Linked DNA regions of Homo sapiens. The protein of the gene in region 2 interacts with the protein of the main gene of each other region in a biochemical or structural test. Each region holds a gene or a part of one and is shown on either strand. Other genes may lie near its edges.

Region 1 (7,879 bases), on a different chromosome or scaffold from region 2:
TAATATGAGCCCTAGAAGAAATAGATGGAATAATTATGGTTTCCCCATGGCCCTGCAGCATTTTATAAGTGATGTTCTATCCTTTTAATAAATCCTACTTTTACTAGAGCTATTCTACATGTTTCTGTTTCCACAGTTAAATGAGAATTCAAAGGAGAATATCAATCTTATCAGTGTATAAGCACTTAATAAGAACCAGGCCTAAAAGAGTATCCGTGTTTTGGCAGAAATACCATACCATTAACTCTATCAAAGAAGTTCCCTCTCTCCTGGTTATAGCACTGCTGTCAAAAACTCAGATGCCTACAAAAAACAGGCAGGTGAGAGAAGAGGACTAGCATCTTCAGGTTTTTTCTTTAGATTCTGACATCCTTTATTTTCATATTAAATGGATAAGCATTTTCCTCCTTTACACATATACACAATATCTGCTTTCTCCCATTTTTCTTGGTCTTTTGTCTTCTGCCTTCCGTAGAGATAAGAGTACAAGAAAAAAAAATGACAACTAGAGGTGATGCAAATACCAAGGGACATTCAGCCTTGCTAAGATGTAATACAGAGTAGGCGGCATAGTGACAAAGTAGGAAGCAATTTCCTACCTAAAAAGAACAATCATTACTCAGTGTTAGATAATTGTCACCACATAGGATTTAACTATCAATTTTAAAGAGAGAACAAAAATCTAGATTTCTCTGTAAAGTCTCCTGATTTTAAAATTTTGCCATAAGTTTTTCTGCTAAAACAATGTGGGTCAGTTCCCTGGCTGCCAACTTGGAATCCTACTGTAGGCTCTAGTGTTCTTTTATAACTTCCTAGATTACTAGCTTCCTTAGATATGTTTATTGAACATCTATAATATGTATTGCCTATAATTATATACTAGGCAAATCGCCACCAAGATTGAACCTCAGTTACTTTTCTATTCACAGGTTATTTTAAATTCAACATGTTATTCTTCAGAGACAACTTAAAACCAATACTATTAATTAACATCTTACCAATTATATTCCAAATCATGCTACCTACTCTGAAAGGACCACAATTTAAACTCTCTGAAGTTAACTGTCTAGAGTAGGTTGAAAAACTGTTTACAGATGCTGTGTCAATTATATAATGATCACTCTGGTCTCTGGGTCTTTGTTTCTGCTGTTCCTTCAGCCTGTAAGGGCTGTCACCTCTTCCTCTAAGAAGCTGCCTTATATATTATTTCCTGATCATTTCAAACTTACCCCCTCTGAGCTTACTGTATACACTATTGAAATCATACCTTTATTGTTTATGTCCCCAAAGAGACTACAAATACCTTAAGGATCAGCCCTATATAGAATTTTGGATTGCATGTCCAGGAGCTAAGTATGATTAAATGTGCCATGTGGCAAATACTGAGAATCTGTTTGATTCAGCTGGCCACTACTTCCCAAGCAGGGTACCATGTGCCTGGCACCTAATAGATGCTAATTTCTTCACTCATTCTTCAATAATGTAAGTGGTAAAAAAGATAGTCTCTGCATTCTCAATAAATCTGTTGAGAGAATGATACAAATTAAAGATTTGTTAAACAAATTAATATATGTATATAAATATATACATGCACTTCAGTTCATCAACACAGTTACATGTCTTTAGGAGACTCAATTTCTCTAAGCCTTGGTGTTTTTGTCCAACTAAATGCAGATGATGCCAACTTTACTAGGTTATGTGAGAAGTGAATGAGAAATTCTAGAAAGTGCTAAGAAAATGGCATATGTCATAGCTCATAAAAATGCTGCCAGCACCTCTTAAGGAAATTAAAACTCCAAAGGTAGTTCCGACTGACAAATTTTTAAAGATATTTGTGTGAAAGACGAAACAGTTCAATAAATGTACTTAATTTATATAGTTTACAGTAATCCAAATAGTTGTTTAGTTTTATAAAACTACAGTTTCTACCAAGCTCAGAGAAAAAACACCACCGTAAATTCACAGTTTGTAAAACAAATAGTTCAAGGATTGCCACGTGTTTTCGGCATGGCAAAACAAAAATCTGTATGTAGGTGAAAGTCAGAAGCGGATATATTTTGGCTCGGTATTAGGAAAAAAGTCCAACACTTCCAAATACTTAGTATTTCCAAATACTTTCCACAGCTTCACATGCAGAATGCCATGCCTCAAAAGGTTCACGTCCTAATACCCAGAACCTATGAATATGCTGTTACATGGCAAGAGGGAATTAAGGTTAAAGATGGAATTAAGGTTTCTACTCAACCTTGAGATGGGGAAAATATTCAGGATCATCCAGATGAGCCCAATGTAATCACAAGGGTCCTTGTAAGTGGCAGAAGGCAGAGGGGAGTATTAAGAGTGACGTAATGTGATAAAGACTGAACCAGCCATTGCTGACTTTGAAGCCCATGAGTCAAAGAATCTTAGAAACCTCTAGAATCTGGAAAACTTAAGGGAATGGGGTCTCGAGCCTCCAGAAAAGAATGCAGCTCCTACCAATAGCTTGATTTTAGCCTAGTTAGATCCATTTTGGACTTCGGACCTCTAGAACTATGAGATGTGAATTTGTGTTGTTTTAAGCCACTAATTTCTGGTAATTTGTTGCAGCAGCACTAGAAAACTAATTTGGCTTTCCTTGAGATGCCATGCCTTCTTCCTGACAGATGGTATTCAAACTGGGGTAGACAAGTTGTTCATGGTATATGTCTAGGGGATAGGGAATAGGTAAAAAAGCATCATGAGGATGCAGATAAGGATTGCTTGCCTAACTGAGTTTCTAAAGGCATTAAACTGGGCCTATGTATACTTTTTTTTTTTTTTCTCCTGAGACAGGGTCTCACTCTGTCACCCAGGCTAAAGTGCAGCGGCAGGATCATAGCTCAATGAAACGTCTAACTCCTGGGTTCAACGGATCCTCCTGCCTCAGCCCCTGGAGTAGCTGGGATGCCAGCACGCCTGGCTTTTTTTCTTTCTTTTTTTTTTTTTAAGTAGAGACGGGGGTCTCACTTTGTTGCCCGGGCTGGTCTCCAACTCCTGGGCTCTAGCAATCTTCCAGCTTCGCCTCCCAAAGTGCTGGGATTACAGGCGTGAGCCACTACGTGCACATTTTTGTGTGTGACCATTTATGGTACTTCCTCTGTACAGAGAGTCTGTAACATTTTCAAAGATTCTCAAAAGGATCTGCTTGATAAACAAGATTAAGAGCACTCTTCCTAGATTATATCCAATACTAAACTTTTAATATTCCATGATTTTCTAAGGCAGTGAGTCTCAAAGCTCATTCCATTAAATGTCAAAATAAAACATCAAAACTCATCCAACATTTGTAAAATGCAGATTCCTGAGCCCCACACCAGACCAGACCGAATCTCTAGGAGCTGGAAAAAAGTTTAATTTCAACAAACTTGGAGGAGGGAAGAGAAGGAATTCTGCACACACTGTTAAAGCACCTCTGCTCCAAGGAATATGTTATGAAACATTACACCAAAAATGAAATAAATTGTTCCCATTAAGGAACCTTTAGGAACCCCAATACACTCATCTTACCATATGACTTTGTGTGATTTTTTTTTTCTGAGCCTAAGGTAGCTCAGAATATGAAGGCAACGTCTACTAGACCTATTTAAATTAAAATTCATTCTGTAGAGTGCCAGGAACGATGATTGGCAGGTAATACGTCACACTAAAAAACGTCAGTCCTATTCTCCATCCCCGCCTCCCTCCAACCTTCTCCCAAAATAAGGAAAAATAATACCCGGCCTGCCATTTTGCATACTGTTAAATACTGCAAGAATTGTGTTAACTGCATCAATATCATTACTAAACAACAATTTTCTATAATAAATTTTTGGTATGATTTATCTCCTAAATGTTTGCTCTTTCAAGCGAATATTTGCTTGAAACATTCTCCTGGACCTTTGTCTATCGTGATGCCGTAGGAATTTACAAATTTAAGTCTTCCACGAGTCATGGCGTGGGGTAAAACTCGACTGGCCTCAATGAAAACACCTCCTAACAGAGAGAGGCCTAGAGAATAAGTAAGAACTCCCAACAGTGGCTTTTCAATCTCGGCAACCTTGGGCAGCTTTTTCTCGTCCGAGACGTTTGACAACCCTAAAGAAACCTGAGCCTTGATTGGAAAGGGGGCTGAGGGAGGAGAGTTTGGGAACCCTCTCTGCGCCTCACAAATAACCCAAATTCCAAGGCAAGGTCACAAAGCCATACAAACCAGGGGGCCTAGGGCAGAGTCGAGTTCTCTCAGCTGCCAAGAAAGCCCTTCACAGCATGCATTAGGCCAAGTCGGCGGACCCCAACCGGAGAAAGAGGAAAGGGAATAAGGAGCCCGCGCACCTTCACACCCAAAAGCAGGCCCTCAATCATAACTGCCCCTGTCCCAGGCCCATCACTCAGCTACACAGAGAAGCTGAGCGAGCCCCGGCCACTCACCCCGAAGCCACTGCGTGCTGTGAAACCATCTCCAATTAGCTCCGCGGCTTACAGACCACCCAAGAGCCCCCTTCACCAGCCCTACGCTTCGGCGGCCGGGGAAGCCCACAAGATAACGCAGCAGCCGCGGATCACAGCCCAGCCTCCAGGAGGCCGCCATCTTGACGGCCTTCTCACTGGCTGCCCGCAGCACAGCCTGATGTCCAGCATCAAGGCCCCGCCTCCCGCATGGTTGGCCACGCCCCCAGACGCTAGCGGTGCCTTTAGGTCTCTCAGACTTGAACCCCCGCCCCCCAACCCAGCCCCGCCTCCAACCACGTTGGCCTTGCCTCCCGGGAAGTCAGGTGCGCCGCTGGATATCTCAGCCGGCGGGGCCTTACCAGACCCCGGCCCCCGCCCCGTTCGCCCCGCCCCCGGGCTGCCCTCAGCGCCGCCTGATTGCATTTGCGGCCTCGCTGCCGTATCCCAGGCTAAGCGCCGCGCGCAAAGCCGTGCGGAGATTGGAGGCCGCGCGGGTCCCTGGTCTGGGCCATGTCTGGCTGTGATGCTCGGGAGGGAGACTGTTGTTCCCGGAGATGCGGCGCGCAGGTAGGGGCGGGGCCACCGGTGCCCGGTATTCCCAGGAGGAGAGGCCCAGGCGGGACCCGGCGGCTGGAGCTGGGCGCAGGGTAGCGGGCCGGGCGTTTAGCTGCGGGGCGGGGTTTCGGGCCTGGCCGTTCGCTACCCCGGCGCACCGCGACCTTGGCGTTCGGAAGCAAGGCTGCGAGGCCCCAGGAGATCAGTGGTCTCGGGCGGGGCGCTCCGATGGCGGGAGCTGGGCGCCAAACGTTGGAAAGAAGCAAATAACTGAGAGAGGAGAGCGTTTAGGTGACCTCACCGGGTATTTATCAGGAAGGCAGGCCAGAGAAGGAATCGTGAAGCACCGAAGTGGAGCTGGGGCGAAGACCGCGCCCCCCAAGCTTCTTTTCTGCGCCCTGACGACCAGTTAGGCGTTTGGGGGGACGTTTGGCACTCGGGAGACGTTTGCCGAACCGGAGCTGTGCCTCAGCTGCCAGCGCTTTGCCTTTGAGCAGTTGCTCCTTGCCTATCTCCGTTTAGATGAATTGTGGGATGATCATGGGAACGATTCTTCCTTAAGCCGAAGTCAAAGGGAAATCCACCCTCACGCTGCATGTAGTTTTCGGTCATTTACACAAACCAACAGTTTTATGGAGCGCCTTCTACACGCTCAGAGATAGGGATACGTAAGATAAATGGCCCAGGGTCTGGAGAACTAGACGAATAAGCAGTTTCAGCACAATATGATAAACCCCACCTAAGAGGCAGGGAAACCCCTCAAAATTAGTTTCCTTATTCCCCCTATCTTATTCCTCCTATCTATATCTTTCTTAGGGTTGAAAATCCTAATTAAAAAGTAGTAACTCGCGGGAGATTTCATTGCTAAACATTTGTCAACCACTTTCTTGTTTGAATAAGTGACTTCCCCAAATTAGCAAAGACGACTCTGAAAATAGAATGCTGCATAGGCAAGATTGGATGAGAGAGAGAAGATCTTGGAGACAGGACAGGTAACTGGAGATCGTTCCTGGGCAAGTGTGTATGGAGAAGTGTCCGTACCCTCAATCAGTAAATCTTAGTGTAATGTCATCAGAATGAGCATCAAAGAGAGCCTTAAGGGACCCGAGAATAAACTAGGATTCTCAAACCAAACATGGCCCACAGACAGCTTGGTGGACAGGCATGTTTTTTTTTTGCTGCACTCAATGTTCATGAAAAATTTGAGCCAACCTTTTTTTTTTTTTTTTTTTTTTTTTGACACGTTTTGCTCTTGTTGCCCAGGCTGGAGTGCAGTGGCGTGATCTCAGCTCACTGCAACTTCTGCCTCCTTGGTTCAAGCGATTTTCCTGCCTCAGCCTCCCAAGTAGCTGGGATTACAGGCGCATGTCACCACACCCAGTTAATTTTTGTATTTTTAGTAGAGACTGGGTTTCACCATGTTGGCCAGGCTGGTCTCGAACTCGTTATCTCAGGTGATCCACCCCCCTAAGCTGCCCAAAGTGCTGGGATTACAGGTGTAAGCCACCACGCCCTGCCAAGCCAACATTTCAAAATCCAGAATCATTTCAGCTTCTTTTAAAACCTCAGAACACATGGTGACATTGGGCCCTTATTTTTTCATGGGATCTGGATTGCGGTTACTAGTGAACACCACCTTTACAGAGGGTGCTGGCCAGGTTACCACAGCTTCCACTACTCACACTGGATTTGCATATCTAGTTAAATACATGAGCCCCTCTAGATATTTGTATTTGTCTGGTTTTGTACAAATACATAAAAACAGCAATAAGAAAAGTTTTAAGAAGTCATAAAATTTCATTGTAGTTTTAGGGGGTCATGGGCAATGGAAAGAGACAGTCTCTTTGGCCTTAAGGAAGGGGAATGTTCAACTGTAAGTGATTAATTCAACGAATATTTAGTGAGCGCCTACTATGTGCCAGGCATTGTGGATTTATAAGTGCAAGCTGCATCTGGTTCCTTCTCCCCTAGAACATGCTGTACAGTGGAAGAGACAAATTAGCAAAGAGACAAAGATGGTATGACAACATGACATAGTTTGACATATGACGATATGACTTAGATGGGAAAGTTCAAGGTAGTTTAGGAGTATACACTTGAATGGGTTAGAGAATACCTCAGGAAACAGTGAAAGTATCTACTGAGGCCTAAAGGATCAGGAAGACATAACCACATGCAATGAAAGTAAGGATATTCCAAGTAGGGGAAGTAGCATGTACACAATCTCAGGGTTGTCCTTGATTACAGACATGGTGTGTTCCCATATTAAGTTTGGTGTTCTGGAACATAAAGTAGGGGCCAGAGACTTGAGATGAAGCTAAAGAGAAAAGCTAGTGAGAGGTAAAGCCGCTGGGCTTCTGGGTCGGATGGGGACTTGGAGAACTTTTCTGTCTAGCTAAAGGATTGTAAATGCACCAATCGGCGCTCTGTGTCTAGCTAAAGGTTTGTAAACCCACCAATCAGCTCTTTGTAAAATGGACCAATCAGCAGGATGTGGGTGGGGCCAAATAAGGGAATAAAAGCTGGCCACCAGAGCCAGCAGCGGCAACCCCCCTCGGTCACCTTCCAGGCTGTGGAAGCTTTGTTTTTTCGCTCTTCACAATAAATCTTGCTGCTGCTCACTCTATGGGTCCGCACTACCTTTATGAGCTGTAACACTCCCTGCGAAGGTCTGCGGCTTCATTCCTGAAGTCAGCGAGACCATGAACCCACCGGGAGGAACGAACAACCTGCGTGCCACCTTTAAGAGCTGTAACACTCACTGTGAAAGTCTGCAGCTTCACTCCTGAAGTCAGCAAGACCACGAACCCACCAGAAGGAAGAAACTCTGAACATCTGAACGAACAAACTCCGTACACACCATCTTTAAGAACTG
Region 2 (7,019 bases):
ACCTAATTCTCAATATCCACACTTACTTTGAGGAAGCAGTCACTTGACCCAGTGGCTAAGAGAAGATGATGACTACTGTTGGTGAAATGGCAGCAATTGACTTGCTCTGAGTGCTCATCATAGGTGTGTACTAGTTCCCCAGTCATAGAATTCCAAATCTAAAGAGAAAAGAGAAAAAATTTACAAATATCCATTATTTTCAAAGGGAGAACAGAGGGGCAAAGCAATGTCCATTGCTTTGCAAATGCTATCTTATCCTGTCATAGCAGATTTTCCTAGTTGGACAAGATGCTAATGAAACCTCTCCCCTTTCTAAAATATGGCAATATTTTGCCTTAATGTTTAAAAAAAATTATTTGCAAATATACATATATGTACCTATAGCATAACTAGAGTGTCATGAACACATGACATTTCTTAAGGGCAAGATTTCACATGTTTATATGAATGAAAGCAGGCAGAGAAGTGCTTTAAAGAGGTTAGCATAATAGATTTCTGGTCAGAAGGGTTGAGCCCAAGAGCTGGCTCTACCACTTATGACTTGTGTGTCACAAATCCCTAACTTACCTGCATCTCAGTTCCCTCTTCTGTAAAATGGGGATATCTATACCTCTCCCACACAATTTAAGATATCAAATGAGATAATGAACATGACAAGTGTTCTATGGACTTCAAGGTACCATATAAATAAGTAAAGGCAGATTGCTTAGTTAAAAAAAATAAAGGTTTTATAGTCTGAGAGAAACCCAGCTTTCAACCCTATTACTGTTCCCAGTTTAATGTAAGCTTGAGCAAGAGACTTCATCTCTGAATCTGCGTCCTCTTCTGTAAACGGGATCGACACTTAACCCTGCAAGCTGTAGCAGGAAATTGATAATGTAATATGACAAAGTGTGTAGTATTTATAGCCTCTTATAGTGTTCAGTTTTCAGTAAAAAGTAATCATCAGGCCGGGCGCGGTGGCTCACGCCTGTAATCCCAGCACTTTGGGAGGCCGAGGCGGGCAGATCACGAGGTCAGGAGATCAACACCATCCTGGCTAACATGGTGAAACCCCGTCTCTACTAAAAATACAAAAAATTAGCCAGGCGCGGTGGCGGCCGCCTGTAGTCCCAGCTACTCGGGAGGCTGAGGCAGGAGAATGGCATGAACCCGGGAGTCGGAGCTTGCAGTGAGCCGAGATAGCGCCACTGCAGTTCAACCTGGGCGAAAGAGCGAGACTCCGTCTCAAAAAAAAAAAAAAAAAAACAAAAAAATTAATCATCATTCTAGTTACTATGTAAGACAACTAAGCAGTCTATGCCATATAACAACAAACAAAAGAAATAAATTACCTAATGAACCTTCACTGGGATTTTGACTTTTTAGAGGTACTAATGTCCTTTGGCATTTCCTTTGTATGTTATCAAAGCACTGATTAGAATCCCCAGAGGTCCAGAGAGTTTATCTTATTTTAAAGTTCTTTAATAGGTATTTCTACCTCTGGCTTAGAAAACAGAAACTCATTATTATTTCCTTTTACTCCATGTAGCTCTGACTTTAGAACTGCCCTCAGTGGCCACCTCCAAGTCTGACTCAGAGTCAGAGTAGACACTACAGAGTGAATTAACTGTTGGTTAAGCCACGAGTCCAATCTATCAAGAGGTAGATTTTTCCAAGGTCTCAAATTTAGTCTGGACATTCCATAGCCCTCTTCCAGTAGGTGAAAACTTCAGGAAAACACCCAAGGCAAATTTCTTGCCCACTCCACCTAGCTACATCCAGTACTCCAGATTTAACCCCTTTGAAAAAGGGTTAAAGTAAGGTCTGTCTTCCATATATCAGTGATAACCCCCACAAGCCTTCAGTTTCTCTTGAATTCTATATTAGTATAAATGCTCCTGGTAGAAGCCAAATTTAGGAACAAGAGAATACTTAACAAAAATAAAAATTACTCTCTGGCGGGGCACAGTGGCTCATGCCTATAATCTCAGCACTTTGGGAGTCAAAGGCAGGCGGATCACTTGAGGCCAGAAGTTCAATACCAGCCTGACCAACATGGCAAAACTCTGTCTCTACCAAAACTACAAAAATTAGCTGGGCATGGTGGTGCACACCTGTGATCTCAGCTACTCAAGAGGCTGAGGCATAAGAATCAATTGAATCCTGGAGGCAGAGATTGCAGTGAGCCGAGATTGTACCACTGCACTCCAGTCTGGGTGTCAGAGCAAGACTCTGCCTCAAAATAAATAAGTAAAAATTACTCTGTTTACTTTTCTCTATTTATGTTTTTAGACCAGTAACGTAATTATTAGTTTGTTCATCCACCTGGTTTTCCACTGAATATATAAGCCAGTTCATAAGCAAATTAAAAAAATTGGGGTTGCATTTTAAAATTGTATCTTACAACAGGAATCCCCAAGTTTGTGCAGCAACACTCCTAATCACAATGCACTCAAAGATTTCAACTGATATTTAACCCATGGACTTGTCTATTAATGGAAGACAAACTCACTAATTTGTCATTGCTTTTCCCCACTGCTTGTTTAATCCTGAGGTGATCAACCTAGGCATTTTTGCTGGTGTTTAAAAATAAAGAATTTTCAGGCCACGCACAGTGGCTCATACCTATAATCCTAACACTTTGGAAGGCTGTGGCAGGAGGATCACTTGAGCCCAGGAATTGGAGTTTACAGTGAGCTATGATCATGCCACTGCCCTCCAGCCTGGGTCACAGAGCAAAATCCTGTCTCTTTAAAAAAAAGTAAAGAATTTTCAGATAGTGTTAATTTACAATGAATCAGGTTAGTAGATCAACAGGTGAGAGTCCTTTAACTCTACTTACTCTGGTCTCATGATCATGGAAAAATAAAATGAATTCTGTTGTGATTACAACTCAAGAGGAAAAGATTTTCCTACCTTCACTTTTTTATCCACTGAGCAGGTTGCTATAAATCTGTCATCTGTAGAGAATGCACAACAAAGCACTTCATCCTCATGAGCCTTGATTTCTAGAAGTTTCTCTCCTGTTTCAGCTTTGAACACCTGCACAAGTAACAATAAAATATTTTTTATAATAAACTGCTTAACTACTGGTCATCATTCAATAAAAATCTTTAAGTGAGTTTAATCATTGTCATTTTGCAAAACAGAAAGGAACCTTGGCAAAGCTACTCCCAAAATCAGAATTTCTGTCAGAATGTGTATGCCTTCACATAACTAGAGAACTATTCACTGTTACATGTTTGTAAATATCAATGAAAATGTTACAGGATCTTTGGGGTGTTGATTTTCTGGCCAGAAACTTCTGTGGCCGGTGGCGCCTTTGCCCAAGTTTTGCTTGGGCCCACTGGTCTTGTTTCACCCACTTGGCCTGACAGGCTGCATTCAGCTCACACTACCAGCCTGGGTCCCAAGCCTGCCAAGGGCGAGTCAGGCGTGGAACAGCGAGGCGTGTGTGAGTGAGCGTGGGGTCCAGCCACTGCGCACAGACGTGCTGACTGCTGCAGCGGGGCAGGCAGCTCCAGGTGCCAGCATGGGCTCTGGCTCTCTGTGAGGCTGTGGCTGGACCAGGCACACCACAAGCAGCTTACACGCTGGCACCGGGGAACACGGTGGTGCCCAGAAGCTTGGAGATGCCAGGAACCGCGGGGCCCCAAAGAGGGAGTCACAGCCCTAGCTTGGGGAGCTCCCAAGTCTGGGCTCCCCGAAGGGCCGCAGCTTTTCTTTACTTATCTTCACTTGCAATGCGGCAAGCAAGGGGCATGTCTCAGCCCTGTTTGTGTTACAGCTCTTTTAGCCTCACCATTCAGTGGGATCCCAAGTTCTTGTCCTACAACCAGGAAGAATGTGGTACGCTGACAGGTGGAAGGTGAGCAAGACAAACAGGAGCTTTATTGAGCGATAAAATAGCTCAATAAACCTGCGGGGGGCAGCTCCTTTCCACAGCTCAGGAGAGGGTAGCTCCTCTCTGCTAGGCAAGTCCTCCTGACAAGTGTTCAGCTATCAGCAGAGAGGGTAGCTCCTCTCTGCAGCTGGTCCTCCTGTCATCTGCACAGCTCTCAGCAAAGAGGGGGCACTAGAGTGGGTTGCTCCTCTCTGCAGCTGGTTGTCCCAGTGTCTGCTCAGCACTGGCTAAGCCCGAGGCTTTTATGGGCTTCAGAAGGGAGGAAGTACATGCCAACTGGTCCATGGGCAGACATGGGCAAGCCTGGAAAAGGCACTATAAGTTCCCACTCCAGTCCATTCAGTCCACACCAGCAGCCCAGCCCCCAGTCTTCAGGCCCTTTGTGGCCTGAAGGTGGGGCCTCATTGGTGACCCGCCCCCTTCCACCCAGGAACCTGTCTGCCTCCTGCTGCCATGAATGGCACCCAGGCTGTAGGTGCCAAGGGGAGCCTGCAGGCCAGTATCAAACTGCCCTCAGCACCCCCTTGGCTTCCCTCCTATGCTCATCAGCACCCAAAGTCCGGAGGGGGCCGAGGCGGCAGGGGGCTGGCATGTCAGCACTGCCCCAAGCATGTGCACATCTGGCCGGGCTGCAACAGCACCCAGGCTCAGCCCCAGCTTTGCTCTAAGATCAGAGTGGGTGCCAACAGTAGGGAGAAGTCAGGCAGCGGGAGCAGGCACTTCCAAGCCTACAAGGGCAGGGGGTCCTTCCAGGTCCCCCAAGAGTACAGGGATGCCTGAGTCTGCAGCCACCGCTTGGGCAGCTACAGCTGCACCAGGGGGAAGGGGTCCTGCCTGCTCTGTGGAGCCGGAGGCCCGAGCCTGCAGCTGTGGTTTGGGCGGCTACAGCTACACCCAGGAGGGCAGGGCTCTGGCCTGCTCCATGGAGCGGGTTCCCAGGTCCACAGCTGTGGCTTGGGCGGCTACAGCAGGAACCAGGAGCTCCTGCCCCAATTCAGAAGGGGTAGGGTTCCTGCTTGTCCCCAGCTACCGCCAGCTCCACAGAGCATGCAGCCCCAGCTGCGCCTCCCTGCTGCAGCCAGCATGATGGCAGCAGCCACTCCAGGCAGCCCGCCGCTGCCATCAAAAAGAAGTGTCAGAGCACAGCTTCAGCTCTTGAGACTATTTTGGCAAATTCTTAACAATCAAATAAAACATTTCATTTAATATGCATTCTCTCTGGAACTCAAAAGCCAAGATTAATAAAATTAGTAATAAAGTACACATATAGACATAAGCTATGGAGTCATAATCTTGCAAAGACTAAAAGTATCCTAAATACAAGTTTTAACTAATTTCATCATGTTCTCTGCAAAATCAAAAGGCAGAACACAAACATAAAGAAAAGTACTCATTAATATTTTCTGAAAACAAAGGGAATCTTAAAGGAAATTCTTTAAAACAACTTAGGAAATAGTCTAGTCCAGTTCCTATTTACAAGAAAAAAACCTATGCCTAAGACTTTGATAAAATAGGTATTTTCCTAATCACTGTTTTTTAATCACAGCCCTATTCCCTGTGCTATGAAGCCCTACGTCTTCTAACAATTATTTCCTCACTACCCTTAGCTGACAAATGGATGGCTGGGAACTGACTGGCAGGGTAAAGGGCACTTCCTTACCACCTGTAAGTTTAGAATTAGGAAAACATGTAACTGTATCTTTTAAATCTCTAGAGAAACCTTTAATAAAATGTTCAAGAGAGCTGGATTCCTCTGTTATTTCTAAGTTGCAATTTTCTTGAATTTTAGGATTTAAACATATTCTGATCTGCACAAAACTGGATACATGCCTCTTTGCATTTTTCTCAAGAGATGTGTTTTACCTGTAAGGTTTTATCAGCTCCACAAGAAGCTATTCTCTGACCATCCTCAGAAAAGCAGGCATGGTAAACAGCATCTGTGTGGGGGCGGACAACTAAGCGGGAAAGATTCGTGATGTTTTTTTTGTTTCTAAATACAGGGAAAAAATGAACAGAAATTAAATAAATGAGAGTAAAAGTAACTATTTTCTTTCAGTACTAAAATAAACTGTCTTTTAACATGGTTATGTTCCCCAAAATACAAAATTCTTAAAATCAGATTACTAACATGCAAATGACAGCACAGATCACCAAAAGAAAAAAAATAACAAAAGTAGCATTTGTAAGAGAAATGTTACCCTTTATCAAGCAACCTGTCACGTGTTACAAATGTCACTGAGTTGGAAGAAATCTAATTAATCAAATTAATCAAATCTAGTTAATCAACATGTCACTTTCCATTTTCCTTTGATACATTAATAATGATACATGTGCAGATAAATCATTATATAAGGATACCTTCAAAAATTCTCCATCTCTTTTTTAAAATAAAAATCATAGCAAAATGCTCATTTCCTAACTGAAGGAAACACCCACCATTATTATGATGTACTTTAAAGCTGCTCTTCTCAGCCAGGCGCAGTGGCTCATGCCTGTAATCCTAGCACTTTGGGAGGCCAAGGTGGGTGGATCACCTGAGGTCAGGAGTTCAAGACCAGCCTGGCCAACATGGCGAAACACCGTCTCTACTAAAGATAAAAATTAGCTGGGTGTGGTGGCACGTGCCTGTAATCCCAGCTACTTGGGAGGCTGAGGCAGGAGAATCGCTTGAACCTGGGAGATGGAGGTTGCAGTGAGCCAAGATCGCGCCACTGCACTCCAGCCTGGGCGACAGAGCAAGACTCCATTTCAAAAAAAAAAAAAACTGCTTCTCTCAAACTACAATTATTCAGACATACCAAAAAGATAAAGCAACATCATATTCTTTGTATCTCAATCTAATGAATATCAACTATTCCACCAGTATAGATATTATATTACTGCTCATAGTATCTAAAGTATAAAGGGGCCAGGCATGGTGGTTCACACCTGTAATCCCAGGACTTTGGGAGGACGAGGCGGGCAGATCACTTGAGGTCAGGAGTTCGAGATGAGCTTGGCCAACATGGTGAAACCCCATCTCTACTAAAAATACAAAAATTAGCAGGCATGGTGGCACACACCTGTAATCCTAGCTACTCGGGAGGCTGAGGCATGAGAATCGCTTGAACCCTGGAGGTGGAGGTTGCAGTGA

Evidence for each region.
Region 1: the proteins of APAF1 (region 2) and APIP form a complex in vitro, tested with the Homo sapiens proteins (one study listed by BioGRID).

Annotation. Positions count from the first base shown.
Region 1 is NC_000011.10:34,913,365-34,921,243, reverse strand, and holds the start of APIP (methylthioribulose-1-phosphate dehydratase), read left to right. Parts: upstream 1-4,864; 5' UTR 4,865-4,959; coding exon 4,960-5,016; intron 5,017-5,305; exon of another isoform or gene 5,306-5,324; intron 5,325-7,879. Other genes in the region: PDHX (pyruvate dehydrogenase protein X component, mitochondrial isoform 1 precursor), read right to left, coding at 4,429-4,588. UniProt on the Homo sapiens protein: Catalyzes the dehydration of methylthioribulose-1-phosphate (MTRu-1-P) into 2,3-diketo-5-methylthiopentyl-1-phosphate (DK-MTP-1-P).
Region 2 is NC_000012.12:98,676,282-98,683,300, reverse strand, and holds part of APAF1 (apoptotic protease-activating factor 1), read right to left. Parts: intron 5,877-7,019; coding exon 5,750-5,876; intron 3,025-5,749; coding exon 2,899-3,024; intron 159-2,898; coding exon 27-158; intron 1-26. UniProt on the Homo sapiens protein: Oligomeric Apaf-1 mediates the cytochrome c-dependent autocatalytic activation of pro-caspase-9 (Apaf-3), leading to the activation of caspase-3 and apoptosis. This activation requires ATP. Isoform 6 is less effective in inducing apoptosis.